Linked DNA regions of Homo sapiens. The protein of the gene in region 1 interacts with the protein of each later gene in a pairwise test. Each region holds a gene or a part of one and is shown in the gene's direction. Other genes may lie near its edges.

Region 1 (8,518 bases):
TGTCTAGTAAAATGTCATGTGTTCCTGTTACCACAAGGTGGTGCAAATTCTATCACTGTTTTTTTGAGATGGAGTCTCGCTCTGTCGCCCAGGCTGGAGTGCAGTGGCGTGATCTCGGCTCACTGCAACCTCCACCTCCCGGGTTCAAACGATTCTTCTGCCTCAGCCTCCTGAGTAGCTGGGATTACAGGCATGCGCCACCACATTCAGCTAATTTTTATATTTTTAGTAGGGTTCCCCATGTTGACCAGGCTGGTCTTGAACTCCTGACCTCAAATGTCAGGAGTTCATAAAGTGCTGAGGAGCTCCCAAAGTGCTTGGATTACAAAGTGCTGGGATTACAGACATGAGCCACTGCGCCCCGCCACAAATTGTATCGCTTTTATACCGTATGCTCATTGAGGTCTCCTGGGTTCAGATTTTTTTTTTGAGACAGAGTCTCTCTCTGTCACCCAGGCTGGAGCACAATGGCGTGATCTCGGCTCACTGCAGCCTCCACCTCCCGGGTTCAAGTGATTCTTCTGCCTCAGCCTCCCGAATAGTTGGGACTACGGGTGGGCGCCACTATGCCTGGCTAATTTTTGTATTTTTAATAGAGATGTGGTTTCACCATGTTGGCCAGGGTGGTCTCAAACTCCTGACCTCAGGTGATTTGCCCACCTCAGCCCCACAAAGTGCTAGGATTATAGGCGTGAGCCACCTCACCCAGCCCATTTCAGACTATTTCTCAGTGGCTTTCAGATTGCTCTGGAGGTCTTAGTCTTATTTTAAGATGTAATTCATAGCATGTTTTGTCACCTTGCATAATAAATATGGAATGTTACTAGGTCCTGAAGTTGTCTATTATAGATAGTCAAGGTGATGCTTTCAGTTTGGGAAACCAAGTTACTGGACCACAATCTTTTTTTTTTGAGATGGAGTCTTGCTCTGTCACCAGGCTGGAGTGCAGTGGTGCTATCTCAGCTCACCGCAACCTCTGCCTCCTGGGTTTAAGCGATTCTCCTGCCTCAGCCTCCTGAGTAGCTGGGGTTACAGGTACATGCCACCATGCCCAGCTAATTTTTGCATTTTTATAGTAGAGATGGCGTTTCACTATGTTGGCCAGGATAGTCTCAATCTTGACCTTGTGATCTGCCCACCTTGGCCTCCCAAAGTGCTGGGATTACAGGTGTGAGCCACCTTGCCCGGCGTTTTTTTTTGTTTTTTTTTTTTTTTGAGATGGAGTTTTGCTCTTGTTGCCCAGGCTGGAGTGCAATGGCATGATCTCGGCTCACTGCAACCTCCGCCTCCCTGGTTCAAGCGATTGTCCTGCCTCAGCCTCCCGAATAGCTGGGATTACAGGTATGCACCACCATGCCTGGCTAATTTTGTATTTTTAGTAGAGATGGGGTTCCTCTGTGTTGGTCAGGTTGATCTCCAACTCCTGACCTCAGGTGATCTGCCTGCCTTGGCCTCCCAAAGTGCTGGGATTATAGGCGTGAGCCACTGTGCCTGGCTAGAACCACAGTCTTATACCATGATTTTCTGTTATTTTCCCATCTACTAGAAAATAAGTAAGTATTTTATCATTTATTGGAAAATAAAGTGAGTTTGTTCACATTAGTGAATAATATTGACTATAATTTTTTACTTTCTATAGGCATTTTTATATTTTTATTCTAGTCATTTTATATAAAATAAAAAGGTCTAGTAAAATGTCATGTGTTCCTGTTACCACAAGGTGGTGCAAATTATATCACTTTTTTTTTGAGATGGAGTCTCGCTCTGTCGCCTATGAATTGTCACTCATAGTCTAATGTATCAGGAGTTCATTATAACTAAAGATGTCCATGGAATTTTTAGGAGTGATGACTCTTAATGTTCAGGCTGTCTGCTGTATTCTTGGCCCACTGAAGGGAGCTAGAAGTAAGGATGGATATAGATTACTGATTAATGATTCATAATGTTATTTTGGTGAGCACAGAAAGGTGTGTAAGGGAGCAGAAAAGCCTGTTCCCCCTCGTCTCCTGACAGAAGAAGAATATCGGATACAAGGAGAGGTAGAAACCCGAAAGGCTTTAGAGGAGCTCCGAGAATTTTGTAACAGTCCAGACTGCTCTGCTTGGAAGACTGTTTCTCGAATCCAGTCTCCAAAAAGGTAAACTCGGCCAGATATACCAAGCATCTATCAGGGTAATTGTGACCTTGAGTTCTACCAGAGATCATACTTCTAGAGAATCGTGCACTTGTGACCTTTGTTTTCCTGTTAATCTTCAAGTAGTCAAGAGAAGGGTGGATATATAATCACACATTAAGCAGTAACCTGTTTCCTCAGGGAACTATCTACTCTAGCTTTGATTGTAGCATTAAGATGGGAAGACTCCAGTACCATATTAAGTTTCCCTTCTGAAAGTTTTGCATTGCTGTCTGAGTTGGTAGGGTTCCCCCCTACCCACTTTTTAGTTGGGGGCAAATGTACCAATGAGTATGTGAAGCTTCAATTTGGAATCATGATGGCATAAAGTTTACAGGGCCATAAACGTGAATAACTGTAATGCCCCTTAATCTTCTCTTATCAGGATTACAGATGACTAAAGGAACCTTGGCACTTTCATAATTAGAAAGGATAGGCAAGTGCTTATTAAGCAGGATGGAGTTGCAGGGGTATTAGCCTATGATCCCAGCTTTCCTTTTCTCCTTAACTTCATGCTTTAGTCTACTTACCTGCCAGAGTAAGGACAAGGATGTTGGCTAGACTTAATATAATTTGAGTTGCGAGCATATCGAGGGCTTTAATTTGTTCTTATTTTGAAAGAAGACCAGAAAGGACAGAAGGATATTTCTAACGAGTATTATCTTCTCTTTTCCAGATTTGCTGACTTTGTGGAAGGCTCTTCCCACCTCACGCCAAATGAAGTTTCTGTCCATGAGCAGGAGTATGGATTAGGGAGCATTATTGCCCAGGATGAAATCTATGAGGAAGCATCCTCTGAGGAGGAGGACTCATATTCTCGGTGTCCTGCTATCACACAGAACAACTTTCTAACCTAGGTAGTGGTCAGTTATCTTTACGTGGACTGGCTTGGTGCCTTGGTCCATGTTGCATGTGTTGTGCAATTGCTTTCAACCCTTTGAAACAGAGTGAGATAGATAGGGTAGAAATTCTCCTACTGAAATAAGAGGCCTAAAAAGGCCTCCCTTTGGAAATGGGAGGTCTCTATGGGATCCCTGAGGAAGGAGAGTGGATAAAGTAGTGAATGCTGGGTAGTTCACTTCCCATTGGTTAAGCTAACAGCCCACTTTTATGTTTCCAGAGAAATTGGATGGCCACAGCTAGCATGGCATTCTAGCTCCTTCTTGAAAGTTGATTCAATCATGGCATTTCTGTCACTGGCTGGCTCTCCAAAGTAAGAACTGTTGTTAAGTGCAGGAATGCTTTTAGACTATAGGCTGCAACTTCCAGAGAGAAATCCACAAATCTGAGCCTCCTTCACTCCAGCTTTTATTTCAGTGACTTTAGAATAATTATTGATTTAACTGTTTTGGGAGGAAAATAGATTTTTATTGTTTTGTTTTTTAAATGAATGTCTTTTAAAAAACATAACAAACTCATGTTCCAGAACCAGCAAGTGCTCCAGAGTGACACACCCCCTAGGCCCCTACATATTTATTAATATGGATTATCCATTAAAGCCCCAGGAGCTGTTGTTTTAAGCTTTGATTTAGTTCTCATACATATGATAGAAAGTCCTATTTGCCTTTAGGAACATGCCTGTAGGCTCTTCTGCAGGTGAGATGTACTGGGCTTTTTATTATATTCAACTTTCAATTCCATCTTAAAAAACATTTGTATTCTTCTCTTCCCATTCTTCCTTACCCTGCCTTTGCCCTTTCAGGAAGGGTCAGTTCCCTTACCTGTGAACTATGTATGTTCAGAGTAGCATTATTCCTGCTAGCTAGGAGAAGTCATCTTGTTTAGGGGATTTGGATGCTTTTTATACGTTCTCCATTTTCCTGTCATTGGGTCATGTTATCTTTGAGTTGCTATGAAATCAGGAAACTGTCTCCTTTTCCTTTCCCTTCCTTTGTCTACATGCTCTGTCCATTCCTTTCAGCCTTTTCTCACCACCCATACTCCCCCAAATCTGGGTAATTTTTAAGCCTTGAAACTATGTAGTTTCTTGATACACAATTTGTAGTTATGCAGCAGCCACAATTTGCATTGCCAGGAAATAGGCTCCAGGTTATCTTCATGCCTCTGGGTGCTCATTCAGCTGTCAAGTTTCCATGAACTTACACTTATTTATGATTGCGTTTCTGACCTGAGATGTATGCTGCCTGTTATTGCAGTAGCATTAGTTTCAGATTCTTTTGCCATTGCAAAGTACCCCTTATAAACCAGCAATGTCATCTGTGAGGAAGCAAATTCTCAAGTGTCTGTCATTTACTTGGTTCTTTTTCTTTGTGGTCTTCACCCTTATACCCTGGAAAAGTCTGTAATTACCTTAGCCAGGAAGATAGATGGTCATGGCAAGCGCACAGCACCAGACTTACTGGCTCACCAAGATGATGGAAAAAGGCAGATGATTTTTTAAAAAGCCGTAATGACTCCTTTAGACCAGCCATTTAGCGTGGTAATTTTGAAAGGCCTAGCTCCATTGCAGACTTCCAAAGGGTCAGCTCTGAGACTGCCCTCCAGGTGGGCAGTTGATTATTTCCACCAGTGTTTTCCAGAGCCTTAAACTGTCCTAAGTGACAACTACCTCAGTTGGCAGGAAAGAGACATATAGTAGAAAGTGAAAAATGAGCAGTATTTGGGCAGATGCTATGGGTTACAGTTGAAGGGTAAAAGGAACTTTACATTGGGAAACCTTTATACCCTTGTGAATTATGTACATGGTAAAATGTTCTCTCTCTACAAAGAACTATTAAAACTTCTGAAATATACTATTTTTTACCTTATTTATAGAAATTGAGACCTAGCATATTTAAGCATAAGTTTATTTTAAAAAATAATTCAACTCGTGCAAGTGGTCTCAGGATTCTCTGGAGATTTTGGTGCCTCCCCTACTTAGGGAGGTGATAGCTTGCCTATAAGGGTGACTTTTCCTGATCATGTCTTTATTTCAATGAGAAAGCACTGTGAAATTGTGAAAGATTCTCCTCTTTCTCTGTTTAATAAACCCCCATGAAATATAGTTTCCATCTCTAGACCAGTTTTTTTTCCACCGTGTTTAGACTTGAGGTGAATAAAATCAAACTGTTTTTTACTCCCTATCTGGTAGTTGGAGACCTGAGCTGTAGGCAGTGGAGATGGCAATTGGTTCTGCAGCCTGAGAGTTGCTCTCACACAGTGAAGGACGGTGCTGCTCTGGTGTGCTGTGTGTCCTTGCCCTGCCTGCCTGTGGCTCTGCCCAGATGCTTCAGATCCTCTGTGTTCCGGAGATTGCTTGACTTCAACCTTCTTTAGGAGCTGCTCTTGTCTCCCTCTTGGCCACTTAGTTTGCTGGCTCAGTCACTACTTGAAGACCCCATTTAATTTTTCTCTGGCAGTTATAGCTCTTGTGATTTCAGTACAGTCTCATCTCTCAGACCAATCTCATCAAGAAGGATTGAAGGGATAACTATGAGGTAAGCTGGACATTGGAGCCGTGTTTGCTGCCACGTCAGCGTCTTGCTGGGTGAATGTCAAGCCATAAATGGGCTCCAGGGCTCTGGATCTCATCAGCATTGGAAATCTATTGCCTCTCATCAGTCTGACCAAATTATGTAGAGCATTAATGTAGAGACTCCCATTAATGGGAATACAAGAGGCAGCTGGCATAAAACATTTCTTTCACTTTCCTTTCCCACTCAGATTGCTTCAAGAGACCAACAGAACACAGGGATCAAAAACAAGGAAAATTTAGCAACTTCATTACCTTCTAATAAGTAATTCCTGTTAGCCACTGCATCCCACCAAAACTAGTTTATTTTTCCCCTCAAATTCATGATTTTTACGTCTGTTACAAAGGGAATTTTGCTGATAGCTCTTTGGGTCCCACTGTTCCATTTTATGCTAATAGATTCCATTCTAGGGCCCAGCCGTCTCTTGACTGATGGTGTTCCCTTTAACCCTTGGCATGTATAATAGAATTTTGGTGAATGAAAGAACCCAAATAGGCCAGATAGTCCCCCCAGGCCCTGATATCCATAAAAGGCTTGGGAATGCATTATGTAATTGTCCTTAGTCTTTTTGTTGTTTTAGAAAAAAAAAACAAGATGGGCTCAGATGGATGCCTACGTAAAAATGGTTCCTAGCTGTGTACTCATAACTTTTCTTTGAATTGAGTAGTGAAAGGAAGGAGGAGGAAAGGAAATTAAATGTCCTTCTAGTATTCTCTGGACTCAAGTCTGACATATGAGATAATAACCTATATTGAAATGCCAAGAATTGTATCTGAAACAAGAGAACAGTTTGACACATTTATCATGCCTTCATATTACATATTAACTGAAACCAATTAATAAACATATGAAATATCCATTGCACAAGGCAAAGGCACCTAAACCTTTTGTTTCTTTTTCTACATAGCAGAAATTGATTTTTTTTTTATTTTTTTAGGGGAACCTATATAATTATGACCCAGTGATGTCTTTTGGTGACTTAAGCTTATGAATTCAGGTTACAATTGAGTTGATTCTAGATGGTTACTACCTTGAAAAGGATGTTGGTGCCTTATGTGACACGAGCCAGAGCCTGCTGGGAATAAACAAAGCAGATTCATGCCAACACCAACTCGTAGCTTTAGTGGCAGATGGGAGTGGTCACAGACTCCCAAAATGTGGGGCTTTGGATTTCCACACCATCCCACGTGTGTGTCATCTTCCTCTTTCACACTCTTGATGATAATTTGAAAATGGTGAAATCACCTCTGAATTTGCCTATAGCATGAGCACATTCTTATGACAACATAACAAATAGTTCATAATGTGAATATTAGAAACTGTTACAGCCTGCAGTTACCATAATTTTCCATGTTTGTGGAATTGATATTGAAATAGCAGGGCTAAGGAATTACTGGCAAGTTTTAGCCTGTGGGTAATACCTTAGGGTTATTTAAATATTTGTAATTTTATTTAAATGTTCATGAATGTTTGAAAGGAACAAAATTATCAGGGATGGCTCTTTGCCATGGGTCTTATTTTCACCCTCTTTTCTGTAAGAAAAAAGAACAATGTCTTAATGTATTTTTAAAGTTTTTGGTATAGTTTCTAATTCCAATTTTAATAAAAGTTTTATAGATATATTGTGGTCTTTCTTAATGAACATAATATTTTCTTGTTTGGATTTCTTGTTTTCAGGTAATCAGCAATTTACTCCTCAGTTTCATCTTTCTAATGAGATGGTTTTGCATGCCACTGATTTCCCTTTTTTTCTTAGCCACCCCTTCCTGTCCCGAGTCTGTACTGGTCTACTTTCATCCTTGGACTGGATGATTTCCCAGGATGCAAAATCTCTAAGGGGTATTCTTGCAGGAGCAGCAGGTTGTACTACCATGCTGTCTCATAGAAAAGCAAAATACAGGTTATTCTTGGCCCAAGGAACTACTCTGATTATATTTTAGTTCTTTTTTTTTTTTTATGGCATAAAGTATCTCTTTTGTTTGTCCATTGGGATGGGGAGAAGACCTATGGCTCCAGCTATGGGATCCCTACCAAGAGCTCTGTATAGGGTGGAAGAGAGAGTAGGGCTGTAGTGAGCCTTATGTGTATTGAATAAAAACTTAAATTATGTCTAGGCCCAGCTTCTACCATAGGAGTCTGGTACCTTTCATTTTATGTATTGGCTACCTTCTTTGCTCTGGGAATCCTTTGTAATATTCATATTAACTCTGTACCTATGTTTTTTCATCTCATTAATTAATTATTATTATTATTATTTGAGACAGTCTCTTCCTGTTGCCCAGGCTGGAGTGCAGTGGCATGATCTCGGCTCACTGCAATCTCTGCTTCCCGGGTTCAAGTGATTCTCCTGCCTCAGCCTCCCGAGTAGCTGGATTACAGGCACCTGCCACCACACCCTGATAATTTTTGTAGTTTTAGTAGAGATGGGGTTTCACCACGTTGGCCAGGCTGGTCTTGAACTCCTGATCTCAAATGATCTGCCCGCCTTGGCCTCCCAAAGTGCTGGGATTACAGGCATGAGCCACTGCACCCTGCCTATTTATTATCATTATTATTTGTTTTGTTTTGTTTTTTGAGATGGAGTTTCACTCTGTCACCCAGGCTGGAGTGCAGAGGCGGGATCTTGGCTCACTGTAACCTCCGCCTCCTGGGTTAAAGCAATTCTCCCTGCCTCAGTCTCCTTAGTAGCTGGGATTACAGGCCCCCACCACCATGCCCGGCTTTTTGTATTTTTTAAGTAGAGATGGGGTTTCACCATGTTGGCCATGCTGGTCTTGAACTCCTGACCTCAGGTGATCTGCCCACCTCAGCCTCCCAAAGTTCATCTCAGTTATTTGGACTACATGGAAATCCATTGTCTATTTTTTTTAAG
Region 2 (4,607 bases), on another chromosome or scaffold:
TGCTCTTTGGGGCTGCTTAAAAGACTCTGTTTCTCCCACCTTAGGAGCTGCCAGCCCCTCAGATCCGGAGCTGGTGGAGAGCACAGCAGCGTCAGCGCAGGCCACCGTGGGAGGGAGGGAAGGGGACTCGTGTATGCAGAGCCATGTCTGAACTGAGCTCAGGGCTAGAGACCCACACAACAGCGGGGAAGACGGGGTTGATAGTTTATAGTTTGAGCTCCCTGAGGGGCTCCTGAGGACTTCGGAGAGGTTAAGAAATGTGTCTCAGGTCCCTGCTAATAATTAGCAACATCTGGCTTCAGAGCCTGTGCTCTTTCTTCTATCCTGTTTGAACCGCATGGCACCCATCACCCCACTTCTCAGGTTGCCTTGTGGACCAGGTGATATTTGAGGGTTGTGTTAGAAGGGGACTAGCTAATGCAGATACTAATACTAGCTAGTGAGCCCAGTGTGAACAGTGTCTGCTCTGTAGAAAGATTTTTTTCCGACCTGAAGTAGTAGGACCACCCTCCTGCGTGGTTATTCTGGATCATGCCTGTTCCTCCTCAGGTTTATTTCTCTCCATCTATGTTATTTATGATTTACTTGTTCCTTGACACTGGAGACCATGTTGGTTTCATTCACCTCTGCGTCTGCAGTGTCCTGGCCCGTGCCTGGCACTCACTGAATCCTCGTGGTTTGTTGTTACAGCTTAGCTGTATGCTTCCTCAAGGCAGGAATTGGGGCTGCACACTCACCATTTTCCCCAGCACTGAGAATAGTGTCTGGCATAACGAATGAAAGTGAGTAAACAAAGGTATCCACTTGAGGCTTAGTACTGTTATGCAAAAAGCACTGGCTTTGGAGTTAGAATGTGGCTTCTCGCCCTGCTGTCACTCCTCATCTGGCCCTCAGCTTCCCCAAGTAGAGTAAGTCCCTCTTGCTCCAGGTCTGACCAGTGGTTCTCTGTGTACATGAGGTGTGTGAGGTTCCTGAAGATGGAACTTGAGCTACTCAGAGGAGCTCATTGGGCATCCACAGCTGCAAAGGGTTAGAAGTCAAACCTTTTCATTTCTTTCCTTTGGTTTTACTTCTTAGATGAATCTTTTTTTCTCACTATAATGTGAAAAGATAGTTGGTTTCTTTTTCTGCGAAATAGACAAAGAGGTATATTTTGGTGCAGATCATTCCTCAGCCTTGCAAAATTACCCTGAAGCCCTTACTAAGCGCACAGGGATACATGTCCCCTTCACCCCACTCTTAGTAGTATTGGGGCAATACTTTAGGTCACACACTTTTAATGCATGTTTAATTCCTGGAGTCCATTAAAAATAAGAGGGCCAGGGAGTTACCCAATCAAGAATTCATTGAGTTCTGGTGCCCAGAGGGCTTATGTTCCCACGCTGGCCTTTGCAGTAGTGATGATGATCTTTCCCCCAGCACTACCGTATTATCCAGCATCATCTGGGAGCCCCTGGACACAGCCATCATGCAAGCACATGGCAGCTGGTGGCATAAAGAATCCACTGCACCCCCACCTCCACCCCCAGACCTGCCCTGCAATTGCACAAAAAGGAAAACAACCATAATCATCATCCTGATGAGAATGATAATAGGCACTTAGAGCTTTCACATCTTTTATCCAAGGGATACAATATGCTCTCCCAAAAAATTTTTATTCCAGTGTTGTGGGAAGTAGAAGGGGCACAGTAGTGGAGTTGGCGAGATGCTGTAGTGACAGGAATGAGGGAGAAGCCAAGGGGTCTGGCCTCTGGAAGGTCCCTCTCCTGAGGGGCAGCCTGAGTCCTCTGTGGGCTTCTACTAACACCTTCCTCTCTTTTTTTTTTTTTTTTTTTTTTTTTGCATTCAGCATGATCTACACTTTAGTGAGCTCTTAACGCAAAGACCATGCACATCATCAGAGACTGAGATGGGAGAGGCCTGAGACGGAGAGGTGCATTTCTGCTGGTGACTGGAGGAGGGACCAGAATGAGGATACGTGAGAAATAGACCCGGCAGGCAGTCAGACTGAATGGGAGCTGGAATCACGCAGCAGCTGGGAGCCGAGTTAACCCTGCGTGTCTGTGTCACCCTGTTTGTCAATCTTTGGCATTCGAATTCCACACACGGGGTCCTAGAGCCCTTCTGAGCATCAGTGGTGTGGGGGAGTAGGTGACGAAACACTAGACCTCTCCTGAGAGAGAATTGCTGCTTCCTGAATCCACTTCATTGAACAGCACCTTGCAAGTTCAAATGAGTTCCTGGGAGCGGAGGCTGGAAGGCCACAAGGTGCTTGCTAAGGAACAGAATGACCCAGAGTCAAGGCCAAGTCTGCAGGGACCTGTTGAAAGCCTCGAGAATGTCTTGGCTGCCCAAGACTCTTGTTGCCTTTCTTCCAAGCCATGGCCATGCCCTTTTTCTCAAATGGGAGGGGCTGGAGGGTGTGTGGGATTTGTCTTCAGCTGCAACCAGCCTTGAGCCTGCTGGGCTATTTTCAGCTGAGGAGGGGTGAATATAGGAAAAATGCATTTTTGAAACGTTTGCAACATGATCAAGGTGTTAGTTCTCCACCACACAAGTTGTATTCTTCTTTTGCCACCTCAAACCATCACAGAGTCTTTAAATGCAAATCAATTGGTCAATGCTAGTCAAAGCTATGTTCTTACAAAAACCCCAGACAGCTCAGAGCTCAGAAAATCCTGTGGAGTGGCTGCTCTGTACCGTGGGCATCCGGCAGCCAGGAAGTGAGACAACATAATTATAACTTTGTTTTATGATGCTGCATCATTTGTACTGTTTAGGTCGACGTGAGGACATCATCTTATTTAGAATTTTCCGTTTGGCATTCTCTTTTGGGTGGGAGTTATGCTGGGGGTTGTAAATAATGACAAGGCTGAGATTTTTATGATGTTTAAATTGGGCACAATGATTTTGACCTTATTCCCCAAACTTCTTTTCTTTTCTACTGTTTAACATACACAGGCTATTTATACACGTCCCCAGCTCCCATCTGAAACCTGTGACTCAGGTTTATGAATGGTGTTTGTGTAGCAACACATTGTGTGCTATGTTTATTAAAATGCAGCGACAACTTGAGTGTCTCACTTAACTGGCTCTCTCATTTCAACCATTACAGCTGAATTTGTCTACATATGGTTGGAAAACTGATAGGAAGAAAAGGCAAATTTTCAAAAAGGCATCATGCTGCTAAAAATTCTGTGGAAAACAAAATGCAGACTTTTACTCTGAGGTTTATGGTATAAAACTGGAGAATTTGAGGTGATGATTTTGGGAGAAGGCTTCCTCTTGGCCAATGCCCTTTTTACCGACCAGGTAACTGTTGTTAGGGATAGAGTTACCTTTCGGCTGCTTGGGCCTGGCTTTGGCTTCATTCCTGAGAAGACTAGTGACCCTCATCCAGAGAGGCAAGCCTTGGATGGCAGGCTGCAGACGCTAATCTAATCGCACAGCCGTCCTGCAAATGCAACTGGATGTAGAAGGTGAATGGTCTGTGTTACTTCTCACCATGGAGCTGTTTTGTTTCTATACTCTGTCTTCTTTCAGAAAGATTTGTAGTGGCTCATAATAGGAGACACAAGTACACAAAGACCATTAAAATGGAAGTAGAAATGTCTTTTTTTTTTTTTTTTTTTTTGAGATAGGGTCTCACTCTGTCGCCCAGGCTGGAGTGCAGTAGTGCAGTCATGGCTCTCTGCAGCTTTGACCCTCCTGGGCTCAGGTGTTGCTCCCACCTCAGTCTCCCGAGTAGACTACAGGTGCACACCACCATGTCTGGCTAATTTTTGTATTTTTTGTAGAGATGGGGTTTTGCCATGTTGCCCAGGCTGGTCTCAAACTCTTGGACTCAAGCAATCTGCTCACCTTCACCTCCCGAAGTGCTGGGATTATAGGCTAAGCCACTGCCACTGGCCTGACAGCTCTTATGTTTATGAAAGAGAAACATCCAGATATTTCCCTCCGACAAGTTGTGATTGGGAAGTAATTCTCGTGATCTGTTGGGAGTTTCAGTGAATTTTCAGTTCCTGGGAGAAGCTAATCATGATGATAAAGATAAGAGTAAAGGGCACAGTTGATGGGGCACGTGCTGTGCGCCAGGCACTGTGTTAAATGCTCACGGGGTGACCTCACCCACCCCTCACAGTGATCATGCACAGCAGGTTAGCTGTTCTCGTCCCCACGTCACCCATGAGAGAACTAGGGAGCCTCAGGGAAGGTGAGTCTTCCCTAGGTGAAGTAGCGCAGAACAAGGCCTTGATGCTACGAAGAAGTGGCCAAATAATGACAGTTATAAACCAAGGCACCTGGCAGTGATCTAGATGCTTCATATGCTTTTCCCTGATCCTCATGACAGTACCACAAGGTGGATATGATCTCTCTTTTATAGATGAGGAAACTGAGAAGAGGAGTCACTTGCAGAGAGCCACAGCTAGCAACGGGTATGTCTAGCTGTAGCTGGGATTTAAACCCAAGTCCGCCTCTTCTCACATAATTTTGTTCTTATTGCCCAGTCTCTTATTGTGTATCCCACAGAAGTGACCAAAGGGAAGAAGAGAGGAAAAGCAGGAGAAACTCCTCTGTTTTCCAAAATACAAAGTGAATATTTTCCT
Region 3 (8,312 bases), on another chromosome or scaffold:
GCTGTTATTGTCTCCATTTTTTAAAGCAGAAACTGAGGCTCAGAAAGGTCATGGAGCATTTTTCCTCGCTCTGTCGCCCAGGCTGGAGTGTGGTGGTGCGATCTCGGCTCACTGCAACCTCTGCCTCATGGGTTCAAACAATTCTCCTGCCTCAGCCTCCCGAGTAGCTGGAACTACATGCATGTATCACCATACCCAGCTAATTTTTGTATTTTTAGTAGAGACGGGGTTTCACTATGTTGGCCAGGCTGGTCTTGAACTCCTGACCTCGTGATCCACCCGCCTCTGCCTCCCAAAGTGCTGGGATTACAGGCATGAGCCATCGCAAGCCTGGCCGGTGACACTGGATTCTAATACAGGGTTGCCTGGCTCCGAAGCCTGAGCCCTTGAAGCCACAGCACCCCAGGTTTAAGTCCCTCCTTCTGGGTCCACTCCAGGGAGTCCTTTGGGATCCTGGTTGAATGGAGAGCTCAGCAGGGGCCTGATCACAAAAACCCTGAATGCCAGGCAAGGGAGGCTGGCTTTCTTCCAAAGGGTTTGGGCAGCCACTGATGGGTTTTCAGAGGGGGAGGCAGGCAGGACAGGTGGCATGGCCTGGAAGGCTATTAGGAGCAAGAGTTTGCCAGAAAAGGCAGTCTTGGAGTGTGGGAAACCCAAACAGCCTCAGACCCTCCTTCTGCCCATATGGAAGAATGAGGGATGTGGGGGTGCTGGGGACCAGGGCCTGAGGACTCAGGGTGTAGGCTGGGGTGGGAGGCAGGAAGCTTGGAGTTCTGGGAAGAGCCCAAGATCCAACTTCCAGCAGCTTCAGAGCAGGCTGCAGAGGTCCTGAGCACCCTGGAGGTTCAGAGGGGAGGGGGCCTGAACTCACGGCTGGGGCCAGACTAGGCAGAGGGGCTTGGGGAACAAGGGAAGGGGAGTTGGTTCCCATTTCCCAGGGTAGAGGTCAGAGGTGGAGTTGGGTAGGGGAGGACCCTAAGGGCCATGGCCTAGGAGTCACTTCCTCTTTCCCACAGTGTGGAGTGATGTCACTCCTGAACCCACTCCATTCCATCCCTGCCTTATAGCAGGCAAGCCTTGGCCAGGGGGGCTGTGGGAGAAAGAGGCTCAGGGATGAAAGCCCCTGCCCTTTACCCCCATTCCTGCCACAGCTTGGGAGGGGAAAGACCAAAATGAGTCAGAAAAAACAGGTCCTCAGCCTGGTGGCCCCACCTAAGCCCCATCCTTAACTGAAAGTCAAATCCCAACCCAGCTGTAGCGTCACACTTAAGCCAGACCCACCCCCATCATAAACCTAACCCAGTCACACCTCCAATCTCTGCTGCAAACTCAACTCCAATCCCAGTCCTGCCAATGAGCCCTAACCTAGCCCAAACCAGCCTCCACGTCAGTTACAAGCACCACATCAGTTCAATCTGGACTGCGCCCTCGGCTCCACACCTAACTCTAATTTACCCCTGCCCAACCTCAGCTCCATCTCAACCTGACCCTAATCCAAACCAACTTTAGTGTCGCCCGAATTGACCCCAATCCCAACCCCGCTCCGGTCTCCGCAAGCCCCGGCTCCAGTCTAGCATGGAGCTCAGCCGCACTCCCGAACTTCTCCCGGTGTTCATCCCCACCCCAGCCTCCGAAACTCCTGCCCCTCACCTTTCCCCCAGCTCCATCCCCCGACATCCTGTTGCTCAGCATCCAAGTCCCACGCCCCGACCCTCAGCCCCATTCCTTCCCCTAACCCCACTCACTCCCACGCCCACTCCCACCTGCCCTCAGCGAGGGGACCAGTGTGTGGCTGACCTTGGTGGGCACACACACATGTCCAGGCACGCACACACACCTCAGTGTATACACACACGTCAGCACACACACACGTCAGTGCACACACACACGTCAGCACTCACACACACCTCAGTGTATACACACACGTCAGCACTCACGCACACCTCAGTGTATACACACACTTCAGCACACACGCACCTCAGTGTATACACACACGTCAGCACACACACACCTCAGCACACACACAGTGTATACACACGTCAGCACACACACCTCAGTGTATACACACACGTCAGCGCACACACACCTCAGTGTATACACACACGTCAGCACTCACACACCTCAGCACATACACGCACCTCAGTGTATACACACATGTCAGCACACACACACCTCAGCACACACACGCACCTCAGTGTATACACACACATCAGCGCACACATACCTCAGCACACACACGCTCCTCAGTGTATACACACATGTCAGCACTCACACACACCTCAGTGTATACACACACATCAGCACACACACAGCTCAGCACACACACACACCTCAGCACACACACAGTGTATACACACGTCAGCACACACACCTCAGTGTATACACACACGTCAGCGCACACACACCTCAGTGTATACACACACGTCAGCACTCACACACCTCAGCACATACACGCACCTCAGTGTATACACACATGTCAGCACACACACACCTCAGCACACACACGCACCTCAGTGTATACACACACATCAGCGCACACATACCTCAGCACACACACGCTCCTCAGTGTATACACACACATCAGCACTCACACACACCTCAGTGTATACACACACATCAGCACACACACAGCTCAGCACACACACACACCTCAGCACACACACACACCTCAGTGTATACACACACGTCAGCACACACACACCTCAGCACACATACGCACCTCAGCACACATACGCACCTCAGTGTATACACACACGTCAGCACTCACACACGTCAGCACACACACACCTCAGCGCATACATGCACCTCAGTGTATACACACACCTCGGCACACACACGCACAACACAGCAGATGCACTCAGCTCAGCATACACACACACACCTCAGTGCACATACACACACATATCTCAGTGCATATACACACATGAGCATACACACACACATACCTCAGTGCACATACACACACCCCAGCAGACACCCCAGCAGACACACATCCCAGCAAACACACACACCTCGGTGTACACACACGCGCCTGTGTATATACACACTGACACACACACACCTCGATGTATATATGCACACCTCCTTGCACAGACACAGATACCTTGGTGTACACGGACACACATATACCCCTCAGCATACACACACATACACCTCAGCATATATACACATACACTCCTCAGTGTACACACATGCCTCAGCACACACACACCTTCAGCACAAGCACACATACAAACACACCTTGGCTACACACACCCATCAGGGTATATACAGACACCTTGGCATACACAGACATACACATCTCCGCAGACACACCCCCCCTTAACACACACACACACACACACACACACACACTCACCAGAAAGGGGTGGGAAATCCAGTGCAGCTGTGAGGACTGCCCTGGGAGCTGGGCCAGGAGCTACCTGCCCCTCCCTGAGGGCCTTGTCCCTGCAGTTCCCTCCTGGTCAGGCCCTGCTCTCTCCAATTCCCTCTTCAGTGTTGACTCTCCCCACCCAGGAATTCCTGCCCAACCTCCCGCCCTAGGGCTGTCCTGGCATCGGGCCAGGTTGGCTGAGTAGAAAGATGACAATCCCAGGGCTACCCTTTCTCCTGTGTCCTGGGGATTCCTGCTCACAACAGCACACAGTGAATGCACGCTGCCCTGAGGGCGCAGTCTGAATGGGGTCAGAGTCTATAGGGGCGCGGGCACACCCAAGCAATTCCCCAGTGAGATCCGCGGAAAGGGGACTGTATCTGCAGGGGCAAGGGGGGCGGGCGGATTGGGGAGGAGCTCATTCGAGGACACCCTGAGGCTGCAGGGCAGGCAGGACAGGATGGGGACCAGCACAGGATGGGGACAGCCTGTGACTCAGACAGGCAGGAGGTCACCAGAGGGGCCAGGGAGGACCAGGAGCTGCTGTGGCTGCTAATAATATGGGAATGGACCTCTGCTGAGCACCTTCTGTGTGCCAGGCATTGAGCTAAATGTTTTTAAAACCTCACTTGATTCTCCAAACAGTAATGCCTACCACACACCTACCCCATGAGGTAGGTATTATTTTTGGTTCCCACAGGGGACACAAGGGACAACGAGACTCAGAGAGGGGAAAGCATTGGCCCAAGTTCACACGCCTCACAACTGGGCAGTAGGTGGAACGGAACCCAGGCTGTGCGGAGGGCTTCCTTGAGGTCGCGGCAATCAAACCCAGACCCTGACTTGCCCTGCAGCCTCCCCCGTGGAATTTCTCACATTTCCCTGAATATTCCAGGCCCGTCTCACCTCCTGGCTGTCCCTTTGGCATGAAATGGCCTTCTGTCCTCAGTCCCTTCTCTGGGAAAACTTCCACCCATTCTCCAGAGCTCAGCCCCCAGTGCAGCCCCGTCACCTCATCCTAGGATCACCCCACCCTAATCGCCCTGCGTTTCACTGTCGGGCTGGGCCCCCCTCCTCAAGGGCAGGGTCTGCCGGCCCCACACAGCAGCACAGGGCAGTCGTGAGTGAATGTGCCTTGTTGGTGAATGAATGCAGGACCCAGCCCGGCTGTGGGTCAAAGTAGGTGCTCAGGGAGGGGCCGGGGCCCCCCCTGCCTGGCTCTTATCTCCTAGGGCTGTCTCGAGCCTTATCTGATAAGGCCTGACAGGTGAGCAGATGAGACTGACAGAGGCTTCCAGGTTACTCAGTAACCTGCCCTCTTTAAAAGTCCCGCCGCTTCCCCCTGGCATCCAGAACAGCCACCCCTCTCTCGGGCACTGCTGCCATGAATGCCTTCCTGCTCTCCGCACTGTGCCTCCTTGGGGCCTGGGCCGCCTTGGCAGGAGGGGTCACCGTGCAGGTGAGTCCTGTGTCCCTACCCCGGCCCAGCTGGCTCCCTGCCCCTAGTGCCCAGGTCTGGTCCCCTGAGAGAGTACCTCCTCTTTGGGGCTGGATTGAGGGTGTGTGTCCCAGGCTTGGCCTTCTTCGAGGAGCTCCTGCTCAGTCCAGCCACACACACACCTTTCCCTTCAACTTTGGAGGAGAAAGAAACCCAGTGGAGGGAAGAGGAATAACCATATGGGGAAGGCGGGGAGTTGGCCAATTTACTGAGTGTCCTATGTGCCGGCTCCTTCCCCAGCCCCTCACTGTGGCTCCACTATCAACCTGGAAGAAAGGGATCATTAGTCCCATTTTACAGAGGGGAAAACTGAGCCTCACAAAGGTTCTGTAACAGGCCATGGGCACATGGCTGTGGGAAGTGCAGGAGCTGGATTTAAATCCAGACCTTACTCCTCAGTGGGTCCCAGGAACCACATGGACACCCTGGAGGTCCTGACAGATGGGTATGCCTACCAGTGCCAATGCTGGCGACAGGCCAAGCTGGCACCTAGCGGGGGCCCTGATCTCTATCAAAGCCAGATTCCGGGAGGCCTTTTATTGCTTCTCAAACCAAAACCAGGCTGCAGGCTGGAGCTGGGGGCCCAGTAATCAGCCGCACCGCTCTCAGGCAGGGGAAAGACAGCCTGGGCTTGGCCACGTGGAACTACGATGCCTGGGTGCTGGTCCTTTGCCTCTCCCTAAAAATCAGCACACTGGCTCCTACTCATTAGGCACCTATGGTGTTCCTGGAGCTTCACACCCATTTTCTCCATTCCCCATACAACATGCAGAATTTGCGGGTTCCAGAGTGTCCAGCATCACGGAGCCAAGCCAGGACGTGGGGCCTGAACTCTGCCCCTCACAGTGCCCCACTGTGGATCGCCTGGCTCCCATATGCCACGAACACTGCCTGTGAGCACCACTGGGCTGGACCGGGGCCAGCACGGGGGGCACAGCCAGGAAGCAGGCTGCAGCCTGGCCTCATGCTCTGGGCTTCTCTCTTCCAGGATGGAAATTTCTCCTTTTCTCTGGAGTCAGTGAAGAAGCTCAAAGACCTCCAGGAGCCCCAGGAGCCCAGGGTTGGGAAACTCAGGAACTTTGCACCCATCCCTGGTGAACCTGTGGTTCCCATCCTCTGTAGCAACCCGAACTTTCCAGAAGAACTCAAGCCTCTCTGCAAGGAGCCCAATGCCCAGGAGATACTTCAGAGGCTGGGTGAGCAGCCTCCTTCCTCTCTGATTGGTGGGGTTCGGGAATACTGTGGTGGCACTTGAGGAAGAGATGTGCTCTGATTGGTGGGATTTGGAGGAAGGGCTCAGCTCTGACTGGTGGAACTAGGGAGCTTGGCTCTGATTGGTGGGTCTGTTCCATGCCCACTTCAATTCCAAGTTGTAACTGCTGAGGTTTGGGAACTAAGACCATTCATCTGGTCTTAGTTTCCTCTCTTTCTGGTGGAATCTCTGCTTTGATTGGTTGGTTTGAGTGGTCTGTGTGCCCTGGTTTGGGGCGAAAAGCCCAGTAGGTCAGAGTACGGGCCTGCTGAGATTCTCCTGGGGCTGGGTGGTGACGTACAAGCTCTGGGCCAAGGGCGGCAGGGGCCTCGCGAGGAAATGCTGGTTCTCACGAGGCTCCATCTCTGTTGTGCAGAGGAAATCGCTGAGGACCCGGGCACATGTGAAATCTGTGCCTACGCTGCCTGTACCGGATGCTAGGGGGGCTTGCCCACTGCCTGCCTCCCCTCCGCAGCAGGGAAGCTCTTTTCTCCTGCAGAAAGGGCCACCCATGATACTCCACTCCCAGCAGCTCAACCTACCCTGGTCCAGTCGGGAGGAGCAGCCCGGGGAGGAACTGGGTGACTGGAGGCCTCGCCCCAACACTGTCCTTCCCTGCCACTTCAACCCCCAGCTAATAAACCAGATTCCAGAGTACTCTGGGTGTTGCCTTCCTTCCTTCCTTCATCCCCTAGTCTATCCTGCCCTGGAAGCTCGGGATGTAATGTACTAAGCGAAGGACCCCACTCTCCCTGCTAAGCTGCTCACTGTCCCTGGGGCTGCCACAACACAGAGGCGTGGAGAGGATCTGGATCTCCAAACCACCAAGGCAGCGGGTGGTGGGGAGGGTTTGCTTTTATTTCACATCTCCTGAGGTCACCAAGTTCACTGAGCCACATGTGAGCACGGGAGCCAGTCTGAGCTGGTTTGGACAACCAATACAGGCACTTGGCCCACTAGAAGACTGGCACCAAACTCTTGGGTATTCAAGGACTTGGCTCCCACCAGCCATGCTAGTGTGGCCTCCAGCCCTGACCACATCCCAAACCACACCTCTTGCCATTTCCTCTGCTGCTGCTCACCTCTCCACTGCCCGTCTTCCCACACTACTGTCCAGGCAAACTCCTACTCAGGGTCCAAGGCTTTCATTCCACGGCCTCTCCTCAAGACAACTTGCTCAACCCCCCAGGAAGAGTCTCAGTGCTCCCATTGTGACCTTGACCTTGGTGCTTTCTGGGCACTGTGATCACCCACAACCCTTGCACAGCTGTGGCCACCCTGTTGTGTAATGGCTTCTGTGCCTGGGGAAGTCTCTCTGACCTCCAGACCCACATGGATAATTGCATGAGGATATAAAACAGGGCAGGGGCCCAGCCACAGCTTTTCCAAGTACTGTGTGATCTTTGGAAAGTCACCTTCCCTCTCTGTGCCTCCACCTCTTCCTCTATAAAACTGGGACACTAATATTTCCTGCCTCCCAGGCTGGGTGAAATAATGCATATAAAGCCCTCAGTTCAGGCCTGACACAAACGTAAGAGGAATTCAATAAGTGGTAAAACAAACTAGAGAAAAGGGGACCAGGATCAGGCTGAAAGTGGTTCAGACAGGGTGAGGAGGCAGGGTGTGGAAGTGAGGCCTATTAGCAAAGGTAGAGGGAACAAAAAAAAGAGGAGGCAGAACTCCCAAGGGTCCATCTTGAGGAGTGGGGTGGAGGGGAAGTGTCTCAAGGGGGATTCCATGGGCTTCAGAATTCAAAACATAAGGTCTCTTCTAGTTGAGATCAGTAAGGCTTTGTGAAAGGGGAAGGGCAAGTGCATTTGCATCACCCCTCGAGATTTGCACTGGGATGCAGGGAATTTCAAAACCAGTGTGGAAGTAGGGAGAAAGAGAGTGTTGCAGAAGGTGGGAATGGTGCAGACAGACACAAAGACATAGGAATGGTTCAGTCAGGACAGAGTGGAGCTTGGGAAGGCAGACAGGACTGAGTTTGAGCCTTACTGTGTCATTTACAAGCTGAGTGTCCCTCTCTGAGGCTTGGTTTCTCATCTGAAAGTGAGGATGATAACAGACCCTACCTCCCAAGGTTGGCGGGGGATTAAGTGAGATGTATGGTAGAGTAGAATCATTTAATGCCCTAACTCTGGAGCCAGACTCTTTGGGTATAAATCCTGGCTCTGTCTTTTACAGCT

What was found. Proteins that work in one complex are often made in the same cells at the same time.
Region 2: the proteins of NEMP1 (region 1) and CNIH3 interact in binary tests that used the Homo sapiens proteins (3 or more experiments, as listed by UniProt).
Region 3: the proteins of NEMP1 (region 1) and GUCA2A interact in binary tests that used the Homo sapiens proteins (3 or more experiments, as listed by UniProt).

The regions. Positions count from the first base shown.
Region 1 is NC_000012.12:57,054,391-57,062,908, reverse strand, and holds the end of NEMP1 (nuclear envelope integral membrane protein 1 isoform a precursor), read left to right. Parts: intron 1-1,963; coding exon 1,964-2,137; intron 2,138-2,849; coding exon 2,850-3,030; 3' UTR 3,031-7,266; downstream 7,267-8,518. UniProt on the Homo sapiens protein: Together with EMD, contributes to nuclear envelope stiffness in germ cells. Required for female fertility. Essential for normal erythropoiesis. Required for efficient nuclear envelope opening and enucleation during the late stages of erythroblast maturation.
Region 2 is NC_000001.11:224,737,480-224,742,086, forward strand, and holds the end of CNIH3 (protein cornichon homolog 3), read left to right. Parts: intron 1-1,849; coding exon 1,850-1,877; 3' UTR 1,878-3,075; downstream 3,076-4,607. UniProt on the Homo sapiens protein: Regulates the trafficking and gating properties of AMPA-selective glutamate receptors (AMPARs).
Region 3 is NC_000001.11:42,161,158-42,169,469, reverse strand, and holds GUCA2A (guanylin precursor), read left to right. Parts: upstream 1-4,724; 5' UTR 4,725-4,757; coding exon 4,758-4,832; intron 4,833-5,859; coding exon 5,860-6,067; intron 6,068-6,499; coding exon 6,500-6,564; 3' UTR 6,565-6,780; downstream 6,781-8,312.